Linked DNA regions of Homo sapiens: regions 2 and 3 are each linked to region 1. Evidence: fine-mapped expression QTL. A gene starts in region 1. Each other region holds a variant in brackets. All regions are shown on one strand. Distances are between the middles of the regions. Region 1 holds the start of RGS6 (regulator of G protein signaling 6). Region 2 overlaps RGS6 (regulator of G protein signaling 6). Region 3 overlaps RGS6 (regulator of G protein signaling 6).

What was found. PIP is the estimated chance that this variant, and not a neighbour inherited with it, causes the effect.
Region 2: its variant is the best candidate, but not a certain one, in a credible set for the expression of RGS6 in whole blood (INTERVAL, PIP 0.84).
Region 3: its variant is the best candidate, but not a certain one, in a credible set for the expression of RGS6 in lung (GTEx, PIP 0.89).

The regions. Positions count from the first base shown.
Region 1 is chr14:71,927,563-71,938,476 of GRCh38, reverse strand. RGS6 (regulator of G protein signaling 6) reads right to left here and starts at 6,048. Exons shown (of 18, transcript NM_001204424.2): 1 at 5,536-6,048. LOC124903404 (translation initiation factor IF-2-like) reads right to left here and starts at 6,551. Exons shown (of 2, transcript XM_047432046.1): 1 at 6,452-6,551; 2 at 5,587-6,308. The coding sequence starts at 6,551. The coding sequence ends at 5,587. RefSeq lists silencers at 5,800-5,959, 5,980-6,259.
Region 2 is chr14:72,544,530-72,555,443 of GRCh38, reverse strand. All of the region lies in intron 17 of RGS6 (regulator of G protein signaling 6), which reads right to left. Among named protein-coding and RNA genes, the nearest start is that of MIR7843, 33 kb to the right of the region's middle. RefSeq lists an enhancer at 9,845-10,623. The variant G/AAG (reference allele first, on the strand shown) is at 5,310.
Region 3 is chr14:72,039,236-72,050,149 of GRCh38, reverse strand. The region is part of intron 2 of RGS6 (regulator of G protein signaling 6); the gene reads right to left. Among named protein-coding and RNA genes, the nearest start is that of RGS6, 110 kb to the right of the region's middle. The variant T/C (reference allele first, on the strand shown) is at 5,739.

The sequences.
Region 1 (10,914 bases):
ACCACCCAAAAGTGGACAGCTGCAGCACTACAGGCCTTTTCTAGGACATCTCTGAAGGACAGAGGTGAAGGGAAATCTTCCCAGTGGGCAGAACTTCAAGCAGTGCACCTAGCTGTGCACTTTGCATGGAAGGAGAAATGGCCCAATATGCGATTATATATCAATTCATGGGCTGTAGCCAATGGCTTGGCTGGATGGTCAGGGACTTGGAAGAAGCATGATTGAAAAATTGGTGACAAAGAAATTTGGGAAAAAGTTATGTGGATGGACCTTTCTGAGTGGTCAAAAACTGTGAAGCTATCTGTATCCCATGTAAGTGCTCACCAACGGGTGACCTCAGCAGAGGAGGAGTTTAATAATCAGGTGAATAGGATGACCTGTTCTGTGGACACCACTCAGCCTCTTTCCCCAGCCACCCGTCACCACCCAATGGGCCCATGAACAAAGTGGCCATGGTGGCAGGGATGGAGGTTATGCATGGGCTCAGCAACACGGACTTCCACTCACCAAGGCTGACCTGGCTATGATCACTGCTGAGTGCCCAAATTGCCAGCAGCAGAGACCAACACTGACCCCTCCATATGGCACTATCCCTCAGGGTGATCAGCCAGCTACCTGGTGGCAGGTTGATTATACTGGACTTCTTCCATCATGGAAAGGGCAGAGGTTTGTCCTCACTGGAATAGACATTTACTCCGGATATGGGTTTGCCTATCCTGCACACAATGCTTCTGCCAAGACTACCATCTGTGGACTCACGGAATGCCTTATCCACCATCGTGGTATTCCATGCAGCATTGTCTCTGACCAAGGCACTCACTTTATGGCCAAAGAAGTGTGGCAGTGGGTTCATGCTCATGGAATTCACTGGTCTTACCATGCTCCCCATCATCCTGAAGCAGTTATATTGATAGAATGGTGGAATGGCCTTTCGAAGTCACAATTACAATGCCAACTAGGTGACAATACTTTGCAGGGCTGGGGCAGAGTTCTCCAGAGGGCCGTGTATGCTCTGAATCAGCATCCAATATATGGTACTGTTTCTCCTATAGCCAGGATTCACAGGTCCAGGAATCAAGGGGCGGAAGTGGAAGTGGCACCACTCACCATCACCCCTACTGATCCACTAGCAAAATTTTTGCTTCCTGTTCCCAAGACATTACCTTCTGCTGGCCTAGAGATCTTAGTTCCAGAGGGAGGAACACTGCCACCAGGAAACACAACGATTCCATTAAACTGGAAGTTAAGATTGCCACCTGGACAGTTTGGGATACTCCTATCTTTCAGTCAACAGGCTAAGAAGAAAATTACTGTGTTGGCTGGCATGATTGACCTGGACTATCAAGAGGAAATCAGTCTACTACTCCACAGCAGAGGTAAGGAAGACTACATATGGAACACAGGAAATCCATTAGGGCATCTCTCAGTATTACCATGCCCTGTGATTAAGGTCAACAGGAAACTACAACAGCCCAATCCAGGCGGGACTACAAATGGTCCAGATCCTTCAGGAATAAAGGTTTGGGTCACTCCACCAGGGAAAAGAACCTGCTGAGGTGCTTGCTGTAGGCAAAAGGAATACTGAATGGGTAGAAGAAGGTAGTCATCAATACCAGCTACGACCATGTGACCAGCTGCAGAAACAGACTGTAATTGTCAAGAGTATTTCCTCCTTCTTTTGTTAAAAACATGTTTGTGTATATATACACTCATACTAAGAAAATATCTTCATTTCCTTTTCCTTTATCATGTGACATAAGATTTATTGACTTCACAACAGCATGTAAGTATTGTTAACTTTATGTAATAGTATTTGCATTGGGGATTGGTGCATTTCTGGTTGTACAAAGGATAGTTGTATTATGTTATGCACAATTTTGACCTCATTATTGTCTTTATTTGAAGATTATGTATGATCTCAGGAGATATGTATGGGTTCAAGTTGACAAGGGGTGGGCTTTTGATGGTTAATACTGAGTGTCACCTTGATTGCATTGAGAGATACAGAGTATTGATCCTGGGTGTGTCCGTGTGGGTGTTGCCCAAAAGAGATTAAACATTTGTGTCAGTGGGCTGTGGAAGGCAGATCCACCCTTAATCTGGTGGGCACAACCTAATCAGCTTCCAGCGAATATAAAGGAGGCAGAAAAACATGAAAAGGAGAAATGAGCCTAGCCTCCCACCCTACATCTTTCTCCCATGCTGGATGCTTCCTGCCCTCAAACATCTGACTCCAATTTCTTTAGTTTTGAGACTTGGACTGGCTCTCCTTGCTCCTCAGCTTACAGCCAGCCTATTGTGGGACCTTGGGACCATGTAAGTTAATACTTAATAAACTCCCCTTTATAGATATATGGTATATGTACATATATCATATGTATATATATCATGTATAGCATATATATAGCATATATGTATATATGATATATATGTACATATATATATATATATATATATATATCCTATTAGTTCTGTCCCTCTAAGAGAACCCTAGTACACTTAACCCTCTAGTTTTCACTGTCACCAAACCAGCAGTCAGCATCATCCAGGGACTTGTTAGATATGTACCTTCTCGGGCCCCATCTCAGACAGAATCAATCAGAGACTCCCAGGATGACCCCCAGGTGTTTCTGTGTTTGAATAAGCCCTCTTCAAAGATCATTCTCATGTCAAAGCAATAAATACGTCATTAGCTTAATTAGTTAAATCTAAAAGTACCTTTTGCCCTTTAGGGAAACAGAGGCCCAGAGGCCACAGGAGAAGTTGGAGTAACTGCAACCAGAACTCAGGTCTCCCACCCACAATGGCCAATGACCTTTCTACTTCTTTTCTGATGCTTTAATCCCTAAATTCAAAAGGAAGCCCCAAGCATTACCAGCCCAAAGTGCAAACACTTGTTTTCAAAGAACAGAAAAAGAAAGAACCTACTCTTTTTGAAAATAAGGACCACCAGTAAAAACTAATATCTGATCAAAATCATTCTGTAAACAAGCAGTAAATTCCCAAGCCTTTAACACATTTCCAAGTTATATTTCCAAGCTATATTTTATATTTATAAAAATGTGTGGGGGAGGGGGACTGGGTAGAAATAATTGACTAGAATAATATTTGGAAGAATATACAGTTAAAGATATGTTAACAGTGGCTCCCTCTCCCTAGCAGATTATGGATAACCTTTATTTTTTTCTTTGTATTTTCCTGAACTGTTTCAATAGCTAAATATTACTTTTGGAATCAGGGGAAAAGTTAAAATTGTTTTTTGAAATATTATATCCATATCACTCAACACGAAAGTTGATTTTGTAATTCTATTTCTTTCCTTACAGCAGGATAGTGTGTGTATAGTAATTATTTATATCATGCCATATGTTACAAAGAAGATGAAATTTGGTAAATATATTCCTTCCAGCTGGAAACTGAAAATGAAGAGGTTAAATGCATTCCTAGGTTCAGAGCAATACCAATTAAGACAAGCTAACTGCAAAGCTAAAGGAAAAATTAATCCCGGTATTGAGATCTCTGACAGCATCCTTTTGAAAAATGTTTATGTGACACACAGCTCCTTATTCCATCCCCTGATATTTAACCCCTGGCACGAAACAGAATGTTCAGCAATTCCTGGCAAAGTCTTAGGAGTTCAGGGGATAAAATGCATGGGAGAAGATGAGAGACATAAGAAATGGAATGATTCTACTTTCACACAAAATTATGTCCCTGTAGACAAAGAGACATCCAAAATTACTGGCAAATTGTCCACAGTAACCTAAATTTATTTTTCTTTCTCAAGAAACGTCTACTTACTTCAAAAACATCTATGTTGCAGATCTTATTCTGCAAGTCAAAAATAAATAAATAATTAAAATGGACTCATTTAAATAAACATTTCTGCCACAAAAGCATTGTCATAATGTTTCACTTGATAAGATGAATTTATTGCTTCAAAGAAAATCTAGTCTTGTTTTACTGAAACTCTCAGCAATATAAATTCAGTGAATGTTAACTGAAATTCCTTAAAGAAAATCAGAAGTAAAGTTAAGATCTGCCAGAATAAATATATAAAAGGAAACACTGGTGGCCTCTCTCCTTCATCACAATACCTCCCAACAGCTGACATTTATAGAACTTGCAGACTCTTTCAGGAAAGGATGAGTTATTGGGAATAGACTCTCTCTACATATATATAGTTTATGGTGCATGAGATCATATTTACAGGACAATTTAGCTTAAGAGTGGTACAATATCAAAGAACTTAGAATTTATCATCTATAGCATGCGAGATTTGGCTTGCAAAGGTTTCTCTCTCAAGAGTCTCACCAAATGTCCCTCAGCCCTCTACTTTCCTTCACAGAGTAGTCCCACCCATTGAAAAAGTGATAAATTAAGAATAAAGAATATACATCTTACAGAAAGTTTCCCACCATAGTCCCAGTTCCCACTCTATGTAATTACCTATTTGCCTATGAAAATTGATATGTAAGAGCCGTGTTGTCAACACATTTAACTAAACCTAACAGTTTCCTTTCAGTCTTAACACTTTTTGACAGACCATACACACACAAACTTGTAGCTCATTCTCTAACTCCATTTTGATACTTACAAGCCCAGTTCTTCCATCTCTCACCCTCCCTGGAAAGAAAGTCCAGTGGAAGTTTTACCTAAACTTGATTATTTTTGCGTTTTTCTTTGGGGTTGTTAAAGGTATTGATCAGAACTCACCTCCCAAGCATTGATAATCCCAAGCCGACGAGACCCCAAATATCTTCAGTTTGTAACATAGAAATGCTACTGGTCTCAATGACAGAGAAGGAAAATAACGTTCCTACTCCGTCAAATTAAGAAACAAAAATGAAATACAGCAGCTTTCATTCTGAACAAAACTAAATTTTCTGGGTCACTTTCCCTGTCTCACTGGGCCACTTCTTTACGCAGCCTGCTGGTGACTGTAAACACGGTCTCTTCACTCCTCACGCAACCAGTTCATTTGTCATCCTCTCCAAGCGAATAGCCACCGCTTCCTTTGCTAGCGCAGTTCCCAAACAACAAACCTCCCCACCCGCCCCTGCCCTCCACACCTCACCGCGGAGACTCGCTTTCTTTTCTTCCAAACCACAAATGGGCGAGCTTGTTCAGGGAAAAAGTTAATGAACGCCTGATTAGAGGCAAAGCTGCCCTACCTGCGATCACAACATCGGAAGACTGGAAGTATCTAAAAGCGCCATCCTCTGCGCTCTCGTCCCCGTCGGTGTGCGCTTCACACCCAGAAACCCAGGAACATGATTTATATGCAGACCTGCACCCATCCCACACAAGTCCACACGCCAGCTTGCCTAACCACTTATGTAAGCTCGTGCTTCCACAGTCCCAAACTGCAGACACACACACACGGGCACCTGTCACGCATCTGAAATGGACAAGCACCCACACCCAGGAGATGAAATCAACACATATTAATGGGGTGGGGAGGGAGGATACTGTTTTAAACCATGTTTTTCCCCCATTTGTTTCTTGCCCATTTTTTATCACAACTACAATTACCTTAGCAACCAAAGAATTGCCTTGACTCTCCCTCTGGCTCCAGAATTTTTCCTAAAGCCAACCTTGCGCCAGGTTCATGATAAAGCTGGAGAAGCCCAGGGAACCGGGGACCGGCAGCCTCTTGGGGGCGGAGGGGAAGTCTAGTCCGTCTCCGCGCCGCTCCCCACAGCCTCGCCTCCTCTTTCCGAGTTTCCGTGGTGGCGAGCGCAGGGGCTCAGCGAGCGAAGAGCGAAGCCCCGGGCCCGCGAGGACGCGCGGCGGGTCGCATGGTGCCGGGACTCGGGGCGCACAGGGTGTCCCCGGCGCGCTCCGGGCTGGCCTGGCTCTCCGCGCTCCCAGGCGTTCGCCGCTTGCCCGCCTCTGCCCGCCCCGGTCGGCAAGGGTGCGCGGAGGTCTGTCCGTTCCCTCGGCGCCTGGCGGCTCCGGCGGCTGTAGGAACGCGGCGCCCAGGCGGAGCTCTCGCCGCCGAGCAGGGCCGAGCGCGAGGAGCTGCCCCAACTCGCGAAGCCGTTCAGCTCCGCGGCCCGCGAGCTGCTGCAGCGGCGCCCGCTGTCGGATGCCGAGCGGAGCTGCAGCCCCGTGCCCCGCGCACCTGGGCGCCGGCACCTGGGCCCCGGCACCTGGGCCCGGACCGCGTGCTGCAGGGAGGGGCCGGCGGGCGGGGACCGGCACCTGAGCGCGTCCCGCGGGCGCCGCCGCACGGCTCACCTGTTCCCAGAGCCGCGGAAGGCGCAGACCGTGATTTGCTCGAGGAGGAGAAAACCTAGAAATGCCTCATCCTCAAGAAGCCGCCGAGAAAACCGAGAGACTGGCTCGACCGGGCGGAGGCTGCTTTCGTCAATTCCAAACTGGCCCGGTCCGGAAACTTCAGCGGCGTCAAGGTTCTCTTAGGGATTCCCGGCCCGGGGTGAGGTGCCCGGCGGCTTCTGAATCTCCCTCACTGACGTGTTGCTGGCGCCCTCTAAATTAAAACGGGACACCGCGACCGTCAGCGATATTGTTCCTAACCTCGTCATTTTTATGTATTCAACATGCACACCACACGCTGCATTTGGAATATTACAGGATGATTCCTATCTGGAACACTACAAAAGAACTTTCGAGAAAAGTAACTCTCAGATATTCTTGGGGGAAGCAGAAAAAAGTCGAAGACAGAAAATGAGAAAGTAACTTGAACTGATGCCTTTCTTTAACGTGGGAGTTTTGAAATGCGATGTGTACTTAGATTCAAAAAGCTGCAGGTGGAAATAGGACAAGATCACTAGTGCTGGACGGTAACCGTGGGATTTGTGTGCAATATCAATGCTATCAATATCAAGAATAAATTTGAGATTTAGTCCTGAATTGTAGTATGTCACCAGAAAAGGGGAAAAATACTTGAAATAAAATACCTAAATGCCTTTAACGATGGATGACCTGGACTCCTCATTCACATGGGTCCAGAAGTTAAAGAGTAAAGTCTCCTTCCCAAATTGTGTCTTTTCCCGCCATTCTACATTGATTAATGGATGTATTCATTCTTTCCTTCAATAGACAAATAGCACCTGCTCTGTGTTAGACCCTCTTCTAACATTAGAAATGGATAATAAAGGAAGCAGTCTCTGCCCTGAAGCCTTCACGTCGAATGGGATAACACACAAGCAGACATGTGTGTTATGGTAGGCTTAGTACACAGAAAGGCGGGGGGTGGGGGGAAACCTGCAACCAAGAGAAACCATACCCAGCCTAGTGAGGAAAATAGAATTGTAACAGATGTCCCAGTTGTTTATTAAAGCTGAAATATAAAATCTTTCTTTCCTCAGGCTCAATACTTGGCTCAAGCCGGTTGTGGAGCTGGCTGTGGCCGTTTGTCACAGTTAAAGAATAGGCTGTACATGGAGCGAAAGGTAGCAACTAGGGAAACTTCCGCTTTGAGGAGCTCTGCTTTTTTTTTTTTTTTTTTTTTTTTTTTTTTTTTTTTTTTTGAGACGTAGTTTCCTTCTTGTTGCCCAGGCTGGAGTGTGGTGGTGCAATCTTCGCTCACTGCAACCTCCGCCTCCCAGGTTCAAGCGATTCTCCTGCCTCAGCCTCCCAAGTAGCTGGGATTACAGGTGCCTGCCAGCTAATTTTTTGTGTGTTTTCAGTAGAGATGGGGTTTCACCATGTTGGCCAAGCTGGTCTCAAATTCCTGACCTCAGATGATCCACCCGCCTTGGCCACCCAAAGTGCTGGGATTACAGACTTGAGCCACCACACCCAGTGGGAACTCTGCATTTCTGAGGCTAGCAGCTCCTTGAGGGCCAAGTACAGCATGAAGGAATAATACTGTGGAAGTATAAACAGCAGGCTCCAGGCTCATCAGAAGAAAGCCTTACTGTGTACTTCTCTTTAAAAAAAAATATGTGAAATCAGATATTTATAGGAATTAGATATGTATTTTCATATTGATACATTTTGTGTATTATATGGGATTCCTGATATATCTATGTAGTATGGTTTCTTATACATAAAATATCTGATTTCATATGTATGTGTATGTATGTGGGGGGTATTTTATATATATATGTATGTAATAGAGACAGGACACATTTTTTGCTGACATGGCCAAGAGATTGGTTTATGTGCTAGGGAATTGAGCAAAGAAGTAAATACATTAAGAAAATTGGAGCCAGTCATCTCACTGCTGGAGAAGGGAATTACCAATACAGAAAGGCAAGAGATCTAGCTATGTGCCTTGAAGTTGGAGATGAAGGTGTAAAATGATTTTGGATCCAAAGAGATTATAGATAGATAGACAGAAAAATATAAGTGTATATGTGTGTGTATATGGTGATATATTTCCTAGGTTTGTCGACTGAGAAGGCCTAAAAGCAATGGCACCCCAGTAGCAATGAACACACCTAACACTCAGACCTTGGTTTCTTAATACCATCCTCCACTGAAAGGAACCACAGTTCCTTGGTATAGTGGATGAAACTAGAATAATTTGTTGTGCAAGGAAATGAGAAAATACTTAAAGAATTATGGAGACATGTCAAAAGAAGACAGAAGTCAGCTTGAAGGGGTTCCTGTTGGCCAAATCTTGAACTATTTAAGGAGTAAAATAGTTAATGACAAATTTAACCCTTTGAGTAAAATAAGAGTCCATGAGTCCATGCTGATAGAAACAGAGAAGGGAACTCTATAGTAGAATGCGACTAATAAATGAAGAAGAAAAGATAGAATTAGAAAACCACCATTTGGCAACCACCATCTTAATAATTGATTCAGGCCAGAATCATCAATAAATGCTAAAATTGGTGGGTAAAAGTTTGATGAGGAACAGGATATTTACATAGTCTCAAAGCATATCTCTAAAAATGTTCATTAATACATCATTAATTATTAATAAGTACAGCATACTTATTAACATGCAGCTGTAATACTTGGGAGGTATCATCTTAATCGACTGGTAAAATTTTACATAAATGAAAACCAGTGATGGGACAAATCAGCCTTGTGCAGCATCCTGATATGATATGCTGAGAATGTAGTGTCACTTCTTATGCATAAATATGTAAGTTAGGATAAAACATCAGACAAATGCAAATTGAAAGAAAAATCAAATAACTGGCCTGTATTCTTTAAAAATGTCAAGACTATGATAGTAAAGATGGTTTCAGATTGAAGGATGCTAAAGAGATGAGACAACTAAATGCAGCATGTGATCTTGAATGGGATCCAAAACCTATAAATGACTTTTGTGGCACAATCAGTGGATTCTGTGGATTCAATGGATTAAAATGGATCATTGTTATTTTCCTGATGTTGTACTCAAGGTATGTAGTAGAGTGTTCTTGTTTTTAGGAAGGAGAAACTGAAATATGAAGTGGTAAAGGGGCATCACATCTGCAACTTACCCTCAGAAGATGGAAAGGGAGCTCTTTGAATTATTTTTATAGCTTTTGTAATTTATTATAACATTATTTCAAAATGAAAGGTTAAAAAACATACATTAAAGTATAAGTGTTCTTACCAAATTAAAAAAATTGTCTTCCCTTTTATAAAATGATCACCATGGGTTTATTTTAAGAATCAATTCATGACTGGCTGTACTAAAAATATGATTTGATCTATTACTTTGTGAATATATACAATAATGTGATTCAGCCCAATACTTTGTTCATTCATTCAGCAATTACTTATTAAGGGCACACTGCATGCAAGGATCCTGAAATTCATCTAAAGTATCAAGTGAAATAATATTTATAGGTAAAACCCTGATTCTTTTGATTACTTCATTATCAAGTGAGGAGTTGCAGGAAAATGTGTAATAGAATTGATTGGCGTAGCTCTCAAAACGGGTGATAAATTGAACAGAAGAATGGAAATGAGTTGGCAATTTAGTTTCAATAACTTCATTGACAGGCCAAGGTAGAAAACTATTGCGTCGATGCATTTGGTGCATGTATTGATATTGGTGGCTTTGGGGAGGATAATGAGTTTTGGGTCATGTGGCCCATTGACCAAGACTGCGCATTCATGACATTTGACAGCTGATGATACTTTTCCTCAAACTCCCACATTTTCTTATTTTCACTCTTAAATGTAGTCTTTTTCTGAGAGCTAAAGACTCTTTTCTTTGCATTTTGGCAATAAAAGGAGAAAAGATTCCAGGTCACTTTTGCTTCATGTTAAATCCTGAAAGAAAATAAATGCCTGATTAGACATGTTAGAAATTGGTTCTTTCAGAGAATGGCTCAAAGGGCACAGAATTAGTAACACCTGGGGTACTTATTAAAACTTAGCAATAAAGAGTCTTGAACAACCAGATGCAGTGGCACACACCTACAATCCCAGCTAACTCAGAAAGCTGAGGCAGGAGGATTGCTTGAGTCCAGGAGTTTGAATCCAGCCTGGGCAACATAGTGAGATCCTGTCTCTAAAAAATTAAAAATAAACAAAATTGGATCTGTTTCTTAAATAGATGGTAATCATTTCTGAGGTTTAAAAAAAAAGGATTCTTGGCCGGGCGCGGTGGCTCACGCCTGTAATCCCAGCACTTTGGGAGGCCGAGACGGGCGGATCACGAGGTCAGGAGATCGAGACCATCCTGGCTAACACGGTGAAACCCCGTCTCTACTAAAAATACAAAAAAATTAGCCGGGCATGGTGGCGCGCGCCTGTAGTCCCAGCTACACGGGAGGCTGAGGCAGGAGAATGGCATGAACCAGGGAGGCGGAGTTTGCAGTGAGTCGAGATCGCGCCACTGCACTCCAGCCTGGGCGACAGAGCGAAACTCCGTCTCAAAAAAAAAAAAGAAAAAAAAAGGATTCTTGAACTTCATCTCAGACCTGATAAGTCACGATTTCTAATGATGGAACCAGGGCATCTACTTTTGAACAAGAATTTGCGAATCAC
Region 2 (10,914 bases), 620 kb before region 1:
GCTGCGAAGCGGCTTCCCCTCATCCCATTTGGAAATCCTGAGAGAAAGGAGGTGCCATCTGCTGGCTGACAAGCCTGGCAAAAGGGGCTTTTGGTTACTGCATTGAGCTGGGGTGCAGGTCACCATGGCTTGGTGCATGTAGATTTCAGGTGGTAGCTGCTGGACAGGCTGGGTGAACCCACCGTTCTGTTTGTGGCCCTGTGTTACTGATGCTGATGCCTCTAGGAACACACATGGCAAATGCCCCAGGGAGGACAGGAGCAGGTGTGATGTTTCCCTTTCTAAGGTGGGGCAGGCAGGGTGGCCTTACTCTAATGAAAACCAACCCCACTTTAAATCATTCTAGGCCAAGTGCCTAATTCGGGGTGCCCAGCCAGGTGGAGGAAGCCCTCCCTGCTGGTGTTCCTGGCATCTCTGACCCTGGCCTCACCATGCTCATCACTTTCTTCTGCCTGTCAGTTTTGCTGAGTGATGGGGGACCTTTCTCCATGGCCCCCCAGCTGTGCAGGGACAAATCCGGAGCTGGGTAGGGATGGTGGGAGAGACAAGGACTCAGCAGCTGAGCCCTACATGAGTGGCAGAATGCCAGGTCCAGACTCCCCGGTCTCGCGTCCAAGTTGTGCATCTCCATTTTCCCTGCTACTCTGCATCCCTGTGTGGTGGAAATGCCCCCTTTTCACACCAGCTCTCTCTTCTCTCCCTCCTCTCATCTGACGGAACAACCCTGTTGCTCTTTCTTCTCTCAGCTTGCAGGAAATTCTTGGTGGCTTCAGGAGTGGAATGAGGGTGGCATTCTGCCTGTAAGGCCTCTCGGTGGCATGCCTTCCTGTGACCCACTTAATGCCCGCCTGTTCCTCTTCTCCTCCTCCTTCCCAAATGGACTCTGGCATCTAAGCTCTGGTTCACTCCAAATTAGGCAAAGACCAAAAGGCTCTAGGAAACAGGGACATGGCTGTGTTGCTATTGGCAACAAGTTGATGCTACTTTTTTCCAACTAGGAAATTCAAGTAACCCTTGACTATGACTACGGGAGACAGTGAAGCTGGAATTTAGTTACTTGATATTGTGGACAAAGCGGCAAGAGAAAGTTATTTGGTTGGCAGTATGTGATTCTCCTGAGGACCTATGAGGACTCTGACCCCATCCTCCTGAGGACACTTATCTCTTGCAAATGTGTTCACCCAAAACACGTACATTTCTTGGGGTCCTTGGTTTAGCCAGCTGAAAAGGCGGAGCCTAGAATTGCTGACCTCTCATCCCCCCACAAAAGCATAACAATTCAGTGAATGTCCATGCCCATTTGGATGCATATGCAAAGAGGGCCGGCTCATTTCTTTCTTCCCCACTATCAGGAATGCAATTTAGCAGGCACTTATCAGACATGGATTCCTAACCGGAGGAAGTACACCAGGGAACAGACTAAGCAGCGTTTTCAGGAGATACCTGGACAGAAACTTAGGTCATTGGAACTCTTAGCTACAGAGAACCTTATTTCCCTACAGGCTCTTTTCACGTGCTGCTGAGATGCTTTTGGTCCCCATGGGACAGAGGATGGGCGGTTTCCCAGCTTTTTTCTCCCCTGATGGTGTAGTGTGTAGAAATGTGAGATTGCTACGTTTCCTGCAGGATTTGGCCCAGGGCCCACAGAGGAAGAGTTATGGAAGCTTTCACCAGGAAATGAAGCCTAAGGATGCTGTTATTGGATTTAGAAGCATCTTCAAAGGTAGTGGGTATTCCCTGTTCTGCTAGGGAATGGGACTAGGAGAAGAGAGTTACTGGGTCAATATCTAAGGATGTTATCTGCACATTGCCTCTGGGACAAGGGACTCATCTCAGCATCATTTCTGGACCCCTCAGCTCCTTGTTTCTTAGGAGAGAAAAACTATGGGTACAAAAAATGGGCAGAAAAAACAGAGACACCAAGAAATGGGTGCTGCCGACTGTCCCTGGAACCAGGGCATGAGAACAGGAGTGGTGGGCAGAGACGATGCCATGGACAAACAGATCATCTCTTTTGGATTTTGGAACACCTTCTGTGCAGAAGGATTCCACAGATTAGAGAGTGTGCGAACGCCGGGATCACTCACCCACTGCTGGAAGGAAGCCACCTCGGGGGTGAAATGCAGCGGCCATTCTGACTCTGCGCCAGCAGCACTAGGCAATTGTGTTTTTAGGAAGGGAAGTGAAGAATAACTTATCCAGCTGAAACTGTGAAGACCTGTGGCTTTAGAGGAGCCCCTGCCCAGACACACACACAGCTGCAGAGGGCATGCAATCCATGCAACAGAGATACTTGCAGGTTTGCAGCTTATGGTTATATGCACACCATACACTGAACACAGAGGCGAACATCAGGCAGGCGGCACATGCACCTGTGTATACACCTGTGCACATGTGCATACACCAGTGCATGCGTTCATGTGCATGTTGAGACCACAGGCACTTACAGAAGCATCTCATGCAAGGTGCACAGGCAATCGCTTGTTTGGCTGTAGAGTTTTCTATCAGCTCCTAAGATGCCACTCTGACAAATACTGCAAACTTAAAGCATTCACCTTAAAATACATATATAAAAATGGAATTCTCCCCCATGAAAAAGGCATTTATTGACCTCATTGGAAATAAACAACTTCTCCACTTCTGTTTCTGTCGGTACTATAGGCAGTAGGAGTGCCCACCCCAGGGGTCCGGTTTATCAAGGAATTTCAAAGCATCCCCTGCCACGTGCTTCTGACTCCTCCACTACCTCGCTTTGGAATAAGTGGTTAAAAAAGAGAAACCTCTGTTTATTGGACTGACGGAGCAACTGGACTTGTTGAGGTTGCATTGCTCAGGGTGGCTCCAGGCAAGCAGACAGCTGAGAGGTGAGTGTTTCTGTCACATGGAGGGCTACATTTGGAGGAGTGGATTTCATCTTCTTATCTTGGGTAGACCCATTCCTTATCTGTCTCTGGTAGCAGGAGGCACCTTCGAGTCCTTCAACTCAGTAGGCGGCCAAATGCCAGATCCCCACAACACGTGCACCATTTGCCTGGTGGCCCTCCCCACCTCCCAGCACCTTACAGGCTGACAAGCCCCCCAGTTCCCACAGCTTCCCGGGAAGTGCTTAGGGGCCCCAGGAAATCGACCATAGAACAGAAGCTGGCCTGCTGGGCACCACAGTCCCTTCATTTCCAGGAAATGCAGAAAAACTAACTCTCTGAGTTGACTTTAAAAATAAGCCAACAATCATAGCTGCCATTTATTGAGTAGTTACCATGAGCTGATCTCTGTAATACATGCACCTTGTGCAGACTGTCATATAGGAGATACCCACGTACCCACCCTCAACCACAAGATGTATATAATGATGCCTATCTTGCAGAATATTGTTGGAAATTAAATAAGGTAATAAGCGCAGCCTAAGTATGAGCTGCAAATAATATCATAATGATGAAACTGATTCTAAGAGCTACACCTGTTAAGCACACGCACTGCACACAGTGTGCTAAGGACGTTATGCATTTTATTCCTACTTATTTACTCTTATCTCCCTTTTATGGATGAGGAAACTGAGGCTTAGAGAAGCTGTGCAATTCAAACAACTAAGTGATGGAGCTGAAGTAGAACCAAAGTCCATCCCAGGCAAAGCCAGCATGACACAGTCCAACACTGTGAGTGTGAGCTCCCAATAAATGGCAGCTCTTGTGATCACATCCTCATTGAATGCCAACATCTACCCTGTGCAGTGGGCTTTGTTGTACCTGTCAGACATGCAAGTGACTTGCCCAGGGTCACATAATATCAGGTGGAGAAAAAGGGATTCAGCTGGGGTTGCCTGTCTCGAACTTAGCTTACTTCTCTGCATTCTGGTGGGTACTAAAGGGACCGTTGTTCTCAAGGGGTCACACGAGCAGGCCACCTTCAGTAGTGGATGGGAATGCAGTTGGGGGAAATGTCCCTGCCACGTTTTTGACATTTAACTCCAGGTGGTTGGTGCTGCTCAGTCACAATCCAGCTCCTTGCTCTTTTGAGACACAGGTAGTGAGGTAACTGGCTACCTGCAGGGTAAAAGGCAGTCTGGTTGGTATGGGACGGTCAGCCACGAGCAGCCAATCAGGGACCTCTCAGAAACACAGTCCTGCTGGAGCAAGATGCACTTCACTGTGCGGGCATCTGTGTAGTCCCCAGGGAATATAGAAATGAGGGGAACCTGGATGAACCTGCTGAAGGGTGGGTCACGGGGCTCACACACACAAGCCACACTCCTTGATGGTCCTTCTCATGATGTCCTACAGCTATGATAACTATTCAAGAAAGCTATGAGCTGGGCACGGTGGCTCACACTTGTAACTCCAGCACTTTGGGAGGCCGAGGTGTGCAGATCACTTGAGGCCAGGAGTTCGAGACCAGCCTGGCTGACATGGTGAAACTCCGTCTCTACTAAGAGTACAAAAATTAGTTGAGTGTGGTGGTGCAGGCCTGTAATCCCAACTACTCAGGAGGCTGAGGCAGGAGAATCGCTTAAACCTGGGAGGTGGAGGTTGCAGTGAGCTGAGATTGCGCCACTGCACTCCAGCCTAGGCAACAAAGCGAGGCTCTGTCTCAAAAAAAACACCCCCCCAAAAACCAAACCAAAACAACAACAAAAAGCAAGCAAGCAAGCTATGATTAAAGATTAGCCAAGAATGAGATGTGAAGCTGAATCACTACCAAGGAAACCTCCATCAGGTGTAAAACCTCCATCAGGTGTAAAACCACCGGATTGTGATGACTCACAAAGGCTAGTGATTGATTGACTCCTTTAATTATTTAGAATTATGGATGCCTCAGAACCTTCTAGTATTAACCAGGACAGAGCACGTATCAGAATTCCCCCACCACTTTTGCTGCAGAAGATTACAAGGTTGGGTTAAGTGTTGTCTTGGATGCTCCATCTCCATTTCCCAGTGTAATGTGCTATGATGTTAAGGCCAGGCTTTCGGTCCTTGCTTGACAGTCTGTCTTTTCCTGTTAGGCACGGGGGCTCAGATGTACTTGGTGCTTAGTGCAAACAAAAAAAGCCAGGGGCATGGTGTGGAATGGTTCTCCAGCCCTGTCACTAAGTACAGGTGCCCTCTGCCTCCCTGCCTTCCCTCTCCCCCACCTCTTATACCTAGGCACCAACTGCACCTGATAGAGTTTTAATGGAGTATCTGAGAGAACATAGTAGCAATCAACCCTGACTGGGCTTTCTTTAGCTGTAAAAAGTGTCTTATTAAAACTTTGCTGACTTTACCGGGATCGCCATGTTTAATGAGAGGCCTCAAAGAATTTGAAAGCAAAAGATG[G/AAG]AGAGGAAAAAAGTCACAAGCTGTAATCACCATAATTACACAATCCCACGATGAGTTGAAAGCAGCCCTGGTGAAGCCCAAGAGAGGAGGGAGTGTCATCGGCAATCGGGGTGGTTCTTAGGACAGCTGGAAAGAATGTGACATGGGAACCCTTCCCTTTCCCTGAGCTGGGCTGAGGACAAGTCCCCCTGGCAGGGCCCTAGAGGAGGGAAGCCAGGGTGGGGGCATAGTTTCTCCTCAGTCCGAGGTCTCTGGGGGGTTTTTTGTGGGATGGGGATGGAGTTTTGCTCTGTCGCCCAGGCTGGAGTGAGGTGGTGCAAGCTTGGCTCACTGCAACCTCCGCCTCCCTTGTTCTAGTGATCCTCCTGCCTCAGCCTCCCGAGTAGCTGGGATTATAGGCATGTGCCACCACACCTGGCTCATTTTTGTATTTTTAGTAGAGACGGGGTTTCACCACGTTGACCAGGCTGGTCTTGAACGCCTGACCTCAGGTGATCTGCCTGTCTCGGCCTCCCAAAGTGCTCGGATTACAGATGTGAGCCACCACGCCCAGCCGGCTGAGGTGTTTTTGATGTTAGCTCATTTACCTGGAATCTGGAACTGGCATTGGGTAAAAGGCAAATGACTTTATGATCCTTTTTGCTTTCAACAAAACACCCTTTCCGGATGGGAACTATGACAGGATGAGTTTTCTTCAACCTTGGGCCAGGACGCCCCACGCACATGGCCACCCTGGCTGTGCTGGGGCTCACTGCACGATGGTTGCCAATGCCCTGTGCCAGTGGGCGCCTGTGTCCTCCACTTGCTGACCTCCTTTCAGACATTCGGGAGAGAGAGCCCTGTTGCCCAGAGCTCAGCTGCTGCGGCAGCAAATGCCAAAAAAAAAAACAAAAAACAGAAAAGAAGGCAAGGATGACATGTGAAGGGCAGTAATTCCACTTCCTGACGGTTTCCCTTGCTTTGAGTGTGTCATCTTGTGGCTTTTTCTCCCTCAAGGCGGAGTCTAGTCCTGAGTCTTTCAGATCCCTCTCCTCCAATCTCAGCAAACTCCTTCCTTATAATTCATTCTCCTTTTCCAGGACTTATTTATAAACCACAGAATGAAATGCAGTCGGATCCATTTAACAAGTATTTGGGGCAGCATAGAATTCCAGTTGCAAAAGATCATGGGATCTGGTGTAGAAACCTACTCTGCACTATCCTTGGCCATTCAGCTTCTAAACGGCTAGACATGGAGCTCGTTGCCCTTTGAGGGGACATAGTCTATTGTTGGAATATTCTGTTATTGTTAGAATATTTTTAGTATCTACCTATCTATCTTCTAGCCATTTGTTCTAGCCTTGCTCTCTGGAGCAACCCGGAAGTGTCCACTCTTGAAGACAAATGCAAAGAGCTCACGGTGGCCATCAAGTCTGCTGGGGGGCTAGACATTTTTACTCCAGCCTCTTCCGACGTGGCTTCCAGGGTCACTTTCTCTCTCTAGCTCTTCTCTCTCAATTGTCTCTAGATGTTAAAGTTCCTGATAATGTGGGGGCTTAGAACCAAGACTTAATATTGCTTAGAGCAACAAAAAGCAATGGAACACTTTTCCTTTCCCACTTTTGTTATATAGCCTAAAGCTGCCCTTTGGAAAGCAGCTGCATTCTGCATTTGCTTACACTAAGCTTATCGTCAATTACAACCCAAGAAATTTTTTTTTTTTAAACTTGATTTTTAGGAAAGGCTACAAATGCCATCCTGTAGTTGGGAAACTGAATTTAAAACACACACACACACACACACACACGCGCGCACACACACACACACAAATATGATCTGGTAAAATGCTATCTGTTTTTGACCCATCATCCCAGCTGCGGGAAATGCTTTCCAAATATAATTCCATTATCTACCAAATGAGCCACACTTTGGAGGTCTGGATCTTTGAATGTGGTTGGAATGTTTGTCTCTTCATCCAAGTCATCAAAAAGGTTATTGGATGGGCCATGGCTGAACCCTTGTGGCCCGCTCAGAGACTGCCTTTCCAGCGGACATAGACGGATTAATACACCCTCTCCCCTGCCATGAAGACGCTGAATATACTCACTTCACCTACAAAGGGGCAAACAGGGACGTGGAGGTGAGCAGGGGGAGGGAGGCAGGAATGGGCATTGCTTTCACCCTTCTTGTGCTGCTAACAGGCCACATATGAGTATTTTCTGGAGTGGGAAATGTATTTTTTAAGGTTACCCTTCTTAACAGTAAGCCAGACCGCCACGGGGGGTGTGGAGAGAATCTGCCAAATATTACACCAATGAGGCCCATTCCCGTATGTGGCCATGGTGCTGTTGCTCATGCTCAGGCTGATACAATGTGGCCATGATTAGGGGGCATGGAAGAACCGCTGCCCTGTGGCCCTGCCACTGCTGGGGTGGCTCCATGCTTCCAACCCCGTCTCACCTTCCCACCCATTGGGAAGCCACTAAGCAAACACCCAAGGGTCTTTCTCTCATCCACCTTTGGGCAAACATGACAAAACTAAAAATCCCACTGCTCTGAGTCCCACCCCCGGCAGTGTCCCATTTAGCCACACTGCAGGAGGGCAACATCTTACAGGCTATTCCTACCTATGGACAGGTATCCTGGCCTCCTTCCAAAATGTCATGCTTTCCTAACTCAACTCAAACCAGGGACACTCATCACTATTTTAAAAGGGGGAAGCATCCCCTGTTGTTTCCACCAGGAGCTCATTTTGGGGGGACTTCCATGGGTCGGGGGGGGGTCTTACTTCTTAGCCTTTGAAGTCCTCAGACTTGAAGCTCTCTGACTTCTCTTTGAACTTTCCAGTCTGGACCACAGGCAGAGTTGGGTCTCCTCTCCTTGACCGTGACATTGGCAGTGCTGTCGCCTTGCCAGACTCCTGCCATTGGATGCTCTTTCTCTGGCCCCCTCTGCTGCGGTGCTGCTGCTCCCCGGACAGGACTGAGGCAGGCTCTGTCCTAGGCAGAGGCGGGCATCCTGTCTTCTGAGTGGTCGGCCTTCCCGCTGTTTATCCTGCGGGGGGCCCTGCACTCCCCTTCACTCTCTGCCTTCTTACTAGGCAGGTGGGAGCCCACACAGTTCCCATGTGGCTGCACGAGGATGGCACTGGGGTCTGACTGCACAAGTGACAAGCATGCCGAGACCCCACAACCCCATCAGCCGCTTGTAAAGTGAGAGCACCTTTCCTGAGAGTGGGTGGGAGGAAGGCACTGTCATGGCGAAGGCCTGCAGGTCACCTCCCGAAATAGATCCCTGCTTGGCATACACACACTTTGCCCCCAGCCTGCCTTGCTAGAGACTGGCAGGGTACGCGATTTGGATCTGAATCAGTGGCTGTAAACACACAGCTGTGTCTTTCTGCCTCAGAGGATTTGATTTTCACTTGACTGCTTGGCACATTGGGGTCTGGGGAAGGCAGGAGAGGGCCTGGGCGGGGGTCGAGGGAGGGCCCACCAGGGAAAGCCAGGAGCAGCTGCCTCCACCGGGCCCTGATTGCCCCACATGTCCAGAAGGTGAGTCACCAGTGGGGTTTTTCTCCAAGTGGGCACTCCGTGGGGAGAGCATTTTGGCTGCTTTTGGCGGACAGGTTGAACCATCAGCGGGAACAGCTGGGGGCTCCTCCTTCCAACGGAAACGTCAGGGTCTAGGGCCCAGTGTCTCAAAAATGACAACCAACTTCTGGCCTTTTTTGATAAAAGTCTCGAGACTCCTGTCAACCCCGTGAGGAGCCACTTTGTCTTCTCTGTACCCACCAGCCATACTGAGTCTGTTGTTTTACATTTTGTAGTTTATAAAAAATAGACTTTTATATTTTCATTTTCCAGCTACAAAACTATAACAGTAAATATGCTTTTCCTAATTTCACACAGAGTCAAGATAAGAAGCGAAGCATAGAGGAGTTGTAACCTGGTCTTAACCACGGACTTCACCACTGATTGTAAACAGGATAACACTGTCTCTCATACTCTTATTTCCCATCGCTAAAAGAGGACAGCAACAAGCTGGCCCAGGGTTCCCTGGGGAACCAGAAAGCCTGGTAGCAGGTGAGCAGCAGAGTGTGCTGAGATTCCCAAGTGCTCACATTTCATTCCTTCCTATACCCATAGGGCCCCTGGGACCCCACAGTGCATGCAGTGATGCGGCAACACCGACCCTGGGGTCCACCTTTCTGCCCAGCTGACCCCACCTGACACACACACACACAGCTGGGCATCCAGACCGGAAGGGTGGGGACTGCAGAACTGGCAAGCTGAAGGGTGTAGGGCACTCACCCTGTTCTCTGTGAGTCCTCCCTGACCCTCCGGCGACTCACCGTGGACGAGTGAACCCTGAACAACTGAGCAGGGCCTGTGGTGTAGGTGTGGGGAGCCTGGGGCACTCAGTTCTCCTGCCAGTGCATGTCCAGGCTTTGTAAATACACCCAACTCAAGTCTATCCACAGTTTATTTCCCAGCCTCACAGGCTGGCAGGCACTTCTGAATCAGGTAACTAACTGGGCAAGAAGACAGCTCCTCTCCCATTCTAAGGAATGAGTTATATAACTCAGAAATCTCAGGACAGAGGGAAGCACAGACCTGCAGAACACCGCTAGCTGGAAGGGACCATCGAGACGACCTAGTCCAAGTCATTTCAGAGGAGAAAACCAGGGCTCAGAGAGGGCTAGTGATTTGCTTGAGGTCACATAGCTAGCAAGCTGAGGCTGGAAGCAGGAGCCAGTCTGCAGGAGGGCTGCTGAGGTGTCTCAGAGTCCCAGGACATGCACTTGCTGCTCCAGAGAGGCAGGTTTCCCTGCTTTCCTTCCCAAACACTTCGATGGAAGTCTCCCTCCAGCTCCAGCCAGGGCCAGGGTTTCACTGCAGCTGGATCTCAGTGCTCTGAGATGGGAGAGGCTGGCACTAATGTTTGTGACCCAGTGGTCCCAAAGGAGTCCAAGGACTGTTTGCAATAAAAACTAACCCTTTGGAAAGATTTTTAGCCAATTGGCCCTTGCCAGAGGCACAGAAAGATCATTTCAACTGAGGTCAAAGCCCTCTGGGGATTCTGCTGAGTCTAGGTATTTGGGAACTCATTCCACCAGGGTGCAAGGCTGTTCCCCATGAAACCTTGAGGAGGAGGGGAAAACAACACCGCCTTCCTGGGGGCAGGAGCTGCTTCTGCCGGTTGGCTGACTGCCCTGATTGCCTGCCTGCCCCCTCCCCTGCGGAGAGCCTTAGCCCTCCACTTCCGGTCAGCACCTGGGCCTGGAGCTGGGAGTTTCTCTCTGCAGAGCTGCCTGGAGGGGGATGAGTGAGCTGTTGACTTCTTGGCTCTCATTAGCTCTTCCTTGGCTTTTGGCAGGGGAAGGAACAGGGGGATGGAAGGAGGGGGCGAGGGAGGCTGAGTGGCAGCTGGCTCCCAGAGCTTCCCGCTCCCCATCTGACTTGCCTGCTGCATTCCTTGGCAGGCAGGCAGGACAGGAAAGCCTGTCGCAGAGATGCCACCCATCACATGCCAAGCCTTCTGCAGCTTCCGGCCCTTCCTGCCGCAATTCCAAGGAGCACCTTGGCAAAGCTAAACTTCGATGCTCTCTTAGGAGGTGGATGAA
Region 3 (10,914 bases), 110 kb before region 1:
TCACATTTCAGTTTACCTCATATTAAATTGGGACTTCATTTGCAAATTTCTGTTTTTCCAAGAATTTCTAATTGCCTTTTTTCTTGTTGACATAGAGACAAGTTTACTGTCTTGTTGACAGTAAAGACAAATTTTCTTAACTTGTCTTTACTGCATCAAAATCATCTAGCTGGTCAGTTTAGGTTAAGTCTAGTGTACAGCTATATATATGTATATATTTAGTGTCACTGTTTGGTTTTGGTTGTTATATTTCCTACCTTCCTACTTTCTTAAATTGCTTTTGATACAGCATATCTTCAAAATAAATTTTTAGAGACTATACATGGCAGATAAAATTACAAGTGCTTTCCAGTCTGAAAAGCAGGGATGAGTCAACAGAAGGCTTCCTGTTCAGAGTTTCAAGAACAGAAATCAATCAGCAAATAAGGCAGATGACTGCAAGAGGATGTCAGAGACAAAGCTCCAACTACTGTTAACTGTGCTCATTAGGAGATCCTAAGGGTGAATGCAGTAGCCAGCCACTCTGTGTGGGTTGTTGGCAGTGACATGTCCACACCCATTTGTGTGCTTCTGGCTGATTGCTTCTGACTCACCCACGTTCTTTCTCTGTCTACTGATGGGATCTCAGTGCATCTGCAAAAGATGAGAGATTTTTGCCAATAGAAAGCAGTAAGCATAAAGGTAGATATCACGAGAGACTTGCACCATTTTGCTAAGCTTTCCCAAGACCTTGACTTGTGGCTCGAAGCCCTCACTTTGTTTTCCCCTTATCAAAGCCCATGTTAAGGACAAGTAAAGCCAGGGGCCAATCCCATAACCAGCTCTTCTGTATTCCAAAAGGTGGCAGTTTCCAAATTAAAATCCTTCAACTTGCCATTTCCTACTCCCATATTCCTCCTGCTATTACTAGAAAGTTTTCCAAGGTTTTCTTGGGAAAACAATTCTATTTATTTCTAAGAATGAACCATGAAAGCAGGAGTTCAAAACTTTCTCTGTTTTGAAATTAGAACAATCCAACACAAATACACACCTAAGAAAAATTTTTTTCACTGTTATACTTTTCTCTTCTACTTTCCAACTGAGAAGATAAAATCCTGACTTTCAATTATGGCCAAAATTTTTAAATGTCTGGGAATTAACTCTGGGAAATTGTTTACAAATCATCATCATAATAAAAGTAATGCTATTCTCTTAATATGAATAGGCAACATGAAATGCAATAGTTGCACAGAACTTGTGAGATGAATGGGGCCAAAACTCATCTCTGGGTGATGGGATTATAGAGGTTTTTGTTATTTTTAAGCTCCTCTCTATTTTTTAAAAAAATTACTGCAATGGCTATGTACTGTTAGTGAAATTTAAAAGTTTAAAAAATAGAATAGAAATAATTATGATTTGATTATTGTAGAGATTAAGGAAATAATTTCATATCTCAATTTTCTCTGTTAAGAAAAAAAAAATCTGCAAAAAGAAAGTGTCGCTGTAACAAAGGGCAGCCTATATTGTAAGAAAGCTAACCTAGTATCTCCCAAAGCCTTTAAGAACCCCTGATAAGAGCAATGATTGACTGGAAACTTCTAAATACCTCATGGAAAGCACTATGACCATAAATTTCCATTCTGATTCAAAAGGAAAATCAGCCCAGAAAAGTCCTTCATTTCATACTGCCTCATGATTTCTCTTTCTGTTGAATTGCAAAGGGAGACAGAAAGCAGTAGGGTGCATGGGAAAATGGAAAGGAGAATCAGTACTAGAAGGCGTTAGCATAGATTCACCTTTGGCAGAAAAAAGACTTAAAAGACTTTTGATACCTGGAGAAGTGAGTTAAAGGACTCACTGATTCAGATAATCTTGGAAAAATTCTAAGAAAACATTTATGGTTCTGAAGCTTGATAGAAATTCAAGTTTAAAGAGCGATTTGGTAACCCCGTTAAAGTGAAAACATTTAAAGATGGGTGATAATTTAGCTATCATTTACCCTTGAACACACTGTGACTACCCATTCAGAAGTATAACTGCATAGGAAACGTCTGAATCCGCAGTCTCTCTTGTTCCGTTCACTTTGCCTGGGAAATTTCTGGTTTGGTGAAACATAAGATGCTCATCCAGGTACCATGTGGTAGTCTACCTCAATGGTGGGCATCATACACTTAAGGCAATGCCCCCATCTGAAGTTTGTCAGGAGTTCAAGACCAGCCTGGCCAACATGGTGAAACTCTGTCTCTACTAAAAAAAAAAAAAAAAAAAAAAACAAAAATTAGCTGGGCATAGTGGCACATGCCTGTAATCCCAGCTACTCTGGAGGCTGAGGCATGAGAATCACTTGAACTCGGGAGGCAGAGGTTGCAGTGAACTGAGCGCGCCATTGCAGTCCAGCCTGGGTGACAAGAGCGAGATTCCATCTCAAAAAAAAAGAAAAAGAAATGAAGTTTGTAAATTCAAACCATGATATGAAGGCAAAAGTCAAATATCGCATTTGGATAAGGCTACCAATCACTGTTAATGCCATATCTGATAGGTATTATTTCAAGAACTGCAGACTCGTATAAGAAAGTGATCTTTGTCCAGCCTGTGTTCGCAGTCATCACTTACTTCTCCTGTGCCCCATTCTCTCAGCGGTCACTTGCCTGGCTAACCAATCTGACAAAGTATGTCTGTATGATGAAGCTGATAAATGTTAGTAGCTAAAACAGGACATATCGCCAGCTTCACTTATTAGCTGTTGGACCTTCAGTGTCCTCACGGGAAAAGGGGGATAATACCTCTTAGATATATTGTGGGGATTAAACAAAACTAACACATAAAAAGCCCTTAGTGCAGGGCCTGGCAGACAGTAAGTACTCACTAATAATAACCATTTCTATTATTCTTTCCAGAAACAACATTGTTTAATCATGGGCTTCTATAGCTTAACCACTCAGCTAGGAGACAATTCCAGATGAGAGTATCCAGTAGATTACCAGTCCAGTTGGAAACTCCAGAGTAGACCATCGTCTGGAGCTGTCACCGTGCTCAGTGTGCATTATGTCGTGTCACAAGAACAGCTGTCTACGCAAGTTACTGCCCAAAGCGGAATTTTATGTAGAAGCATCTACTATAAAGAAAATGGAGACTTACTATTTGTCCAAGCATTGGTCCTGGTGCATTCTTTCACCATAGGATCATCTAACAAAATCAGAGGGTCACAAGGCTAGGTAAATAAAGGTGTTATTATGTGAAGTCAATTTTTACTATTTGTCGATACTGGAAGGCTGTGAGTTTTTCAGTACAGCTGAAAATCAATGTGTCTTCAATAGAGGAAATCAATTTCTTGCCATGTTGGTACTCGAAGAGCCATATCCTACATGACATTTGCCCTAGAATCCTGTTATTGGCTAGAAAATTCTGAAGTTATAATATCTGAAAAGTATAGCCATTAAGGAATACTTCTAATGCTAATATAACTCTTTTTAGTGAAGGATGAGTTAAGATGAAGGAATAAGCAGAGGAGGAGGAAGAGTAGAAGGAAGAAGGGTTGGGGGAGGAGGAAGAGGAAAGGAGGGGGAGGAAGAAGAGGAGAGGAGCAGGGGAGGAAGAAGAGGAGATGGGGAGAGGAAGCAACTATTCACTTTCACACACACTGGTACCTTTCAATCTCCTCTTACTACATTGATCAAAATAAGTTACTTACTCTTAAAAAACAAAACGAAAACCTTGAGTTGGATTCTAGATTCTGCTCTACTGATGTCATTACAAGCCATGTAGATGTTGTATAATTAGAGAATTAATTTTAGAAATAAAATGTTTCAGGCTGCCAAACATAAGATTAAAATAGACATTGGACATGGGAGTTTAAAAAGCAATGAAAATAAAATGAGAGGTGTGTGTATGTGTCATGCTAAAAAGTCCAAAACAGAAATTTCAACATTAAAGCCATAATAAGGTTTAAAAAAAAAAAAAAAAAAACCCAACAATGAAATTCAGGGAGGACATTTCTCCCTAATACTAGCCTGGCAATTTGGCAATGGGGGAGACGCTCCTAGGGAGAAAAATGACTTTAATGCTTTGACCTCCATCAGGAGGATGGATGACGTCAGTGAGCCTTTGGTGAAGAAAAGGAAAGACTCAAGAAGACCTCTGAGGACTTCACTACGACCAAACTTTTGGGAACCTGAATTTCCCAATACCTCCACACGCAGCCTACCACACACACTCATATTGGGTGTCAGGACTTCCACATATAAACTTGGCGGGGTGCGGGGGCGTGGGGGGACACAAATATTCCATCCCTAATGGTAACTATTGTGAAATATGCCCAGAGGAGTTTCAAAAATAAAGGCCTACTCTCCAGAGTGGAATCCAAAAAGACTTTACCAGAGCCTTATCCACCTGAGGGAAGGACATTCCTCCTACTCTGGCCCCCTCTAGCCTTCCTATCTCATTATGGGAGCTTTTTTTTTTTTCTTTAAGAAAATAAAAGCTAAGAAACACTTGTGAAGGTCATAGGCCATGAATGCAAGCCCACTAAGAAACTGGTATGTAGTCCTAAGATTACAGAATGTTTCCCCTTCCCTACACCTTAGCACCATACCTCACCAGTAAAATAACAGATTACATTAGATTACGTCTAAAAGAGCTGCAAGATGCAAACTCTATCTGAGGAGTTCTTAGGGAATCCCAAAGACAACAGGGGAGACTGAAACAATGACGCCAGAGGAATTTGAAGCCTCTGGCACCTACAGCTACAGCAAATACTAAACACAGGCCAACTGTAGTCTGTGATTAATCTAGTCTAGATTAACATAAAACCTTATACTAAAGGTCTATTACCCAATCCATTATTTTCAGCTTTCAATGAAAATTACAAGGCATGCTAAAAGGCAAGAAAAAACAATTTGAAGAGGCAAAGTAATAATCAAACCAGATAAATACTGGACTTATCGGATAGGAAATTTAAAATAACTATGATTAATATGTGTATTAGGGTTCTCCTGAGAAACAGAACCAATAGGATAAATAGATAGACAAGAGGGGATTCATCAGGGGAATTAAATCTGATTATGGAGGCTGGGAAGTCCCATAGTACGCCATCTGCAAGCTGGAGAACCAGGGAAGCTGGTAGCATGGCTCAGTCCAAGCTCAAAAGCCTGAGAATCAGAAGAGCCAACAATGTAACTCTCAGTCCAAGGCTGAAGGCCTAAGAAACTGCGGGACTGCAGATACAAGACCCAGAATCCCTAGGGTGGAGAACCTGGAGTTTTTTGGGTTTTTTTGTTAGTTTGGTTTTTTTTGTTTTTTGAGACGGAGTCTTACTATGTTGCCCAGGCTGGAGTGCAGTGGCATCATCTCGGCTCACTGCAACCTCCACCTCCCAAGTTCAAGTGATTCTCCTGCCTCAGCCTCCCAAGTAGCTGGGATTACAGGCACCCACCACCACACTCAGCTTATTTTTTTGTATTTTTAGTAGAGACAGAGTCTCACCATGTTGGCCAGGCTGGTTTCAAACTCCTGACCTCAAGTGATCCGCCTGCCTCGGCCTCCCAAAGTGCTGGGATTACAGGCATGAGCCACCGCACCCAGCCAAGAACCTGGAGTTCTGATGTTCAAGATCAGAAGCAGATGAATGTCTCAGCTCTAGAAGGGAGGGAGAGAGGGAAAAGGAGAGGGAGAGGGAGGAAGGAAGAGAGAGAAGGGGAGAGAAAGAGAATATGAATTCATTTCTCCTCTCCCTTTTTGTTGTATCTGGGACCTCAGCTGAC[T/C]GAATGGTGCCTGTCAATATTGGGGCAGGGCAGATCTTTCTTATTCAGTACGCTGATTCAAATGCCAATTTCTTCCAGAAACACCCTCATAGACATACCCAAAAATAATGCTTTTCTAGCTATCTGGGTATCCCTTCTAAAGTCAAGTTGACACCTAAAATTAACTATCACAGTATGTTAAGAACACTGATGGGAAAAGCAGACAATATGCAAGAACAGACAGGTAATGTCAACAGGGAAATGGAAACTGTAAGAGAGAATCTAAAGGAATTGCTAGAAATCAGACAAACAGAAGTGAAGAATGTTTTTGATGGGCTCATGAGGAGACTAGTCATGGCTGAAGAAAGAATCAGAGAACTTGAAGATAGCTCAATAGACACCTCCCAGATAAAAATGCAAAGAGAGAAGAAAACAGAGTGGGAGGTGGGCAGAGAAGAAAAAGAGAGGAGGAGGAGGAGAAGCGGAACAAGGAAGAGGAGGAGTAGGAAGGAGCAGCAGCAGTGACAGCAGCAGCGACCTTCCAAGAACTGTGGAATAATTGCAAAGGTGCGACATGTGTGTAACTGAACAGAAGGGGAAGAAAGAATGAAGCAAAAGAAATGTTGAAGGAATAATGACCAAGAACTTTCCAAAATAAATGACAGACACCAAAATACCAATCTAGGAAGCTTAGAGACCACCACTAAGCACAATAAATGTCAAAAATACCTACACCTGGGCTATCATATTTATACTGCTGAAAGCCAAAGTCAAATAAGAAATTTTGAAAGAAGCCAAAAGGAGGGAAACATCTATAGAGGATGAAAGTTGCAGCAGACATTTTGTTAGAAACCATGCAAGAAGAGAATGGAGAAAAATATTTAATGTGTTAAATGGGGGGAGTCCACCAACATAGATTTCTATATTCAGCAAAGTTATCCTTCAAAAGTGAAGAAAAAATAAAGACTTTTTCATACAAACAAAAACTGAGGGAATTCATTGCCAGCAAATTTGCCCATCAAAAAAATGTTAAAAGAGGTTATTCATAGAGAAGGAATATAGTATAGTCAGAAATTTGTATATATATAGAAAATTTAAAATCTAGGTGATTAATATCTGGATGGTGTGTGACTGCAGGCACAACAGCAAAGGAAAAAAGTTACTAAAGAAAGTTGTACAAATTTGACTAAATAAAAGTTTCAACCCACAATAACATAAGACAATTAAAAGCTATGCAGACTACGAATCAGGGGAAAATATTTACCACAAATCTAAAAAAAGTATTAACACCCTTAATAAATAAAGAGTAAAAACTAATTGAAAGGGACATTTCCAATATCACAATAAAGAAAAGGGCAAAGGGGATAAGAATAAACAAGCCACAGAAGCAGAATTAATGTTCAAAGAAATACAAATAAAATTACCTATCAAGTTAGCTAAAATTTTTAAAAGATAGTATTCATGAGAAACAAAAGCAATGTAACACTCTCACACTTTTTCAAAGGTAACTGGCAAAGGTAGAAAAAGTTCTAAAATCATTTATGTCCACATTATTCTTTGACCTAGAAATTCCATCTCCAGCAATCTACTTGAAGAAAACAGGATATTTTAAAAGCATATAGAATATTTCTACAAACATTTTCATGGCCCCATATTTATAATAACCTCCCAAAATAGAAATATGAGATATGGTTACATGGTCAAATGAGGTATATTACAGCAATATATTATTAGGAAAATATGCAGATATTGAAAAACCAGTGAATGTTTAACATGAAAAAAAAAGTTTATTATATAAAGCCTGGTGATCAGAGAGCAAACAGATCTGTGTATAGAGAACATTTAAATATACATAATTTTGAATACATTATACAGATACATACAAAATGTAAAGAAAATACTATAAAATGTTAACAGTAATTACTCATGTTGAATGAATTGCAGATGATTTACATATATATCCTACTAAGCATTCATCAGGTTCATAATTAGAAAAGTATTAGAGGCTGGGTGCGGTGGCTCATGCCCATAATCCCAGCACTTTGTGAGGCCGAAGCAGGAGGATCATCTGAGATCAGGAGTTTGAGACCAGCCTGGCCAACATGGTGAAACCCCATCTCTACTAAAAATACAAAAAATTAGCCAGGCATGGTGGCATGCACCTCTAATCCCAACTACTCGGGAGGCTGAGGCAGGAGAATTGCTTGAACCTGGGAGGCAGAGGTTGCGGTAAACTGAGACTGCACCACTGCCCTCTATCCTGGGCAACAGAATAAGACTCTATCTCAAAAAAAAAAAAAAAAGAAAAAGAAAAAGAAAAAGGAAAGTATTAGAGGAAATTTCTCTAGTATTAATACCCTGAAAGTAGGCAGAAGTTAAGCAGTAAATTCCTTCAGATTTTAAAGTTTCAAAAATATGTTACTCTAATCTCTATTCTAGCACCATTTTACATTTTTATAATTTAGCAGTAGTTCTATCATTAGTGATAGAAACAGATATGGAATCTTATCTACTGACCCCCCAATACAATGACATTTCTACTCTCATACACTGATAAGTATAAAATTTGATCTTCCTGGGAGGTGATATAAGTAAGATTACAAAATAGGATGCCCCAGATCTCATTCCCTGCCCACCCCCCACAGACTTACCAACAATATATTGTACAAAATGCCTTTATAAGACCTCCAGAAACCAGTTATGAAACCACAGTGCCCCTAGGCAAATACAAAGTGAAGAACAGCAGAATTAAAACAGGTAGGAAAAGTCATTTTATTTTGCTATTCTTAGCCTTTCCCCAGGCTGGCACAGCTCAATGAATTGGGAGAAAACAACCTACTCAGAGCTTCTCCTTTGGGAGGAAAAGAGGAGTGAATGCACATCCAGTGTTCCAGTTTTTCAGGGGGCTGCCTAAGAGACTAGTTTCTGTTTTGCTTAACACAGACTCTAACGGGAAACTGGTATACTTTGGACATCTAGGGCTGCAGAGAACAAAAGAACTTGATGTTTTCTTGCTGTACCGGAGAACCTACAGTACTGTGGAGTGTCACAGAGAAAGCAAGAGAACACAAACTGTTGAAAAAGAAATTAGCAAACTTCTCTAATTGGGAAATTACATGCAAGCCCAGACAAGACACATCTCCAGAGAAGGTCGCAGAGACCCTCAGAATCTCTAGCCAGGCTGACTGGTAAAGGTCTTCCCCTACACAAAGCCAGTCCATTAAGACTGGAAGAGCTGGTTGTTGTAGTTGTTTTTCAAATGCCCAAATCCCAGCAAAAATCAATGCATATGAAGAATCAGGGGAACATGGCCCAATCAAAGGAATAAAATAAATCTCCAAAAGCAGATCAGAAAAACAGATATCTATAAATTACCTGACAAAGGATTCAAAATAACCATCTTAAAGAAGTTTAAAGAGTTAACTGGGTGTACAGACAACCAGCAATAAAAAATAAACCATCCAAAAAATGAAGAATGAATAAAATGAGAATATAAATAGAAACTATTTTAAAAAAGAACCTAACAAATTCTTGAGCTGAAGAATACAACAACTGAATTGGAAGATTTACCAGAGGAGTTTAACAGCACACTTGATCAAGAGCAAAACAGAATCAATGAATTTGAAGATAGGTCATTTGAAATTTTCTAGTCAAAGCCAAAAAAGAAACAAAGAAAGAAACACCATTGAGCAGATCAATATACACATTATGAGAGTCCCTGAGAAAGAACAGTGAGAGAAAGGAGAAAATAATGACTGAAAACTTCCCAAATCTAGGGGGAAAAAGAACATCTAAATTCAAGAAAGTCAATAAACTCCAACTAGGATGAACCTGAAGAGCCTAAACTGAGGCACATTATAATCAAACTGTCAAAATCAAAAACAAAGAGAGAATCTTGAAAAACAGCAAGAGAAAAGTAAGTCATCATGTACATGAAATCTTCCATAGGATTATCAGCAGATTTCTCAGCAGAAAGTTTATACGCCAGAAGGAAGTGAGATAATATACTCAACATGCTAAAAGAAAAAAAAAAGCCAACACAAAATACCATGGCCAAAAAAGCTGTCACTCAAAAATGAAGGAGAAATAAACAAAGGCTGGGAGAGTTCATCCCCACTAGACCTGCCTTACAGGAAATGCTAATGGAAGTCCTTCAAATGAAAGGATCCTAGATATCAATATGAAAGCATATGAAAATGTAAGCTCCCTGGTAAAGGTCAATATATAGACAAATACAGAATTCTGTAATACTGTACTGGTAGGTTGTATGTCATTTTAAATTCTGGTATAGAATTTAAAAGATAAAAGCTTAAAAAATAACTACAATTATAAAACTCTATAAATGGATATGCAATATAAAAGGATATAGTTTGAAAGCTTGATTGGATATGCAATATAAAAAGGTATAATTTGAAAGATTGGTAACAAAGTAGGACGGGGGATGTAAAGGAATTTTATGTGATCAAAGTTAGGTAGTTAACAGTTTAAAATAGATTGTTACAACTATAAGATGTTTTTTGTAATCTCCATAGCAACCGCAAAGAAAATACCTATAGAAGACATACAAAAGAAAATGAGAAAGGAATTAAAGCATGTCACCAAAAAAAAAAAAAAAAAAATCAATGAAACACAAAAGAAGGCAGCAAATAAAAAGGAAAAAGGAAAAGAGGAATAGATAGATACAACATATACAGAATACAGTTAACAAAATGACAACAGAAAGTCTCTCCCAATCAGTAATTGCTTCAATGTAAATGGATTAAATGCCTCAATCAAAAGACAGAATGGCTGAAGGAATTAAAAAACAAGACCTCACTATCTGATGTATACAAGAGATTCCCTTTAGATATAATGGCACACATAAGCTGAAATGAAAGAATGGAAAAAGATATTCCATGCACATAGTAACCAAAAGAGAACAGAGGTAGCTATACCAATATTAGACAAATAGATTTTAAGTCAAAACTGTCAGAAGAAACAAAAAAGGACATTATACAACAATAAAAGGGCCAATTCATAGGGAAGATACAATAAGTATAAACGTGAGGCCCTAAATCGTTCAGGATCTATATCCCTCCTATAAACTAGCCCTAAAACTGAGCTCTGTTGACTCTCACCCTCACAATGTCAACTACCAGCTTATCTTTGCGGGTACAGGACAAGGACAAGACCAGAAATTATCTCTTCACCTACCCTG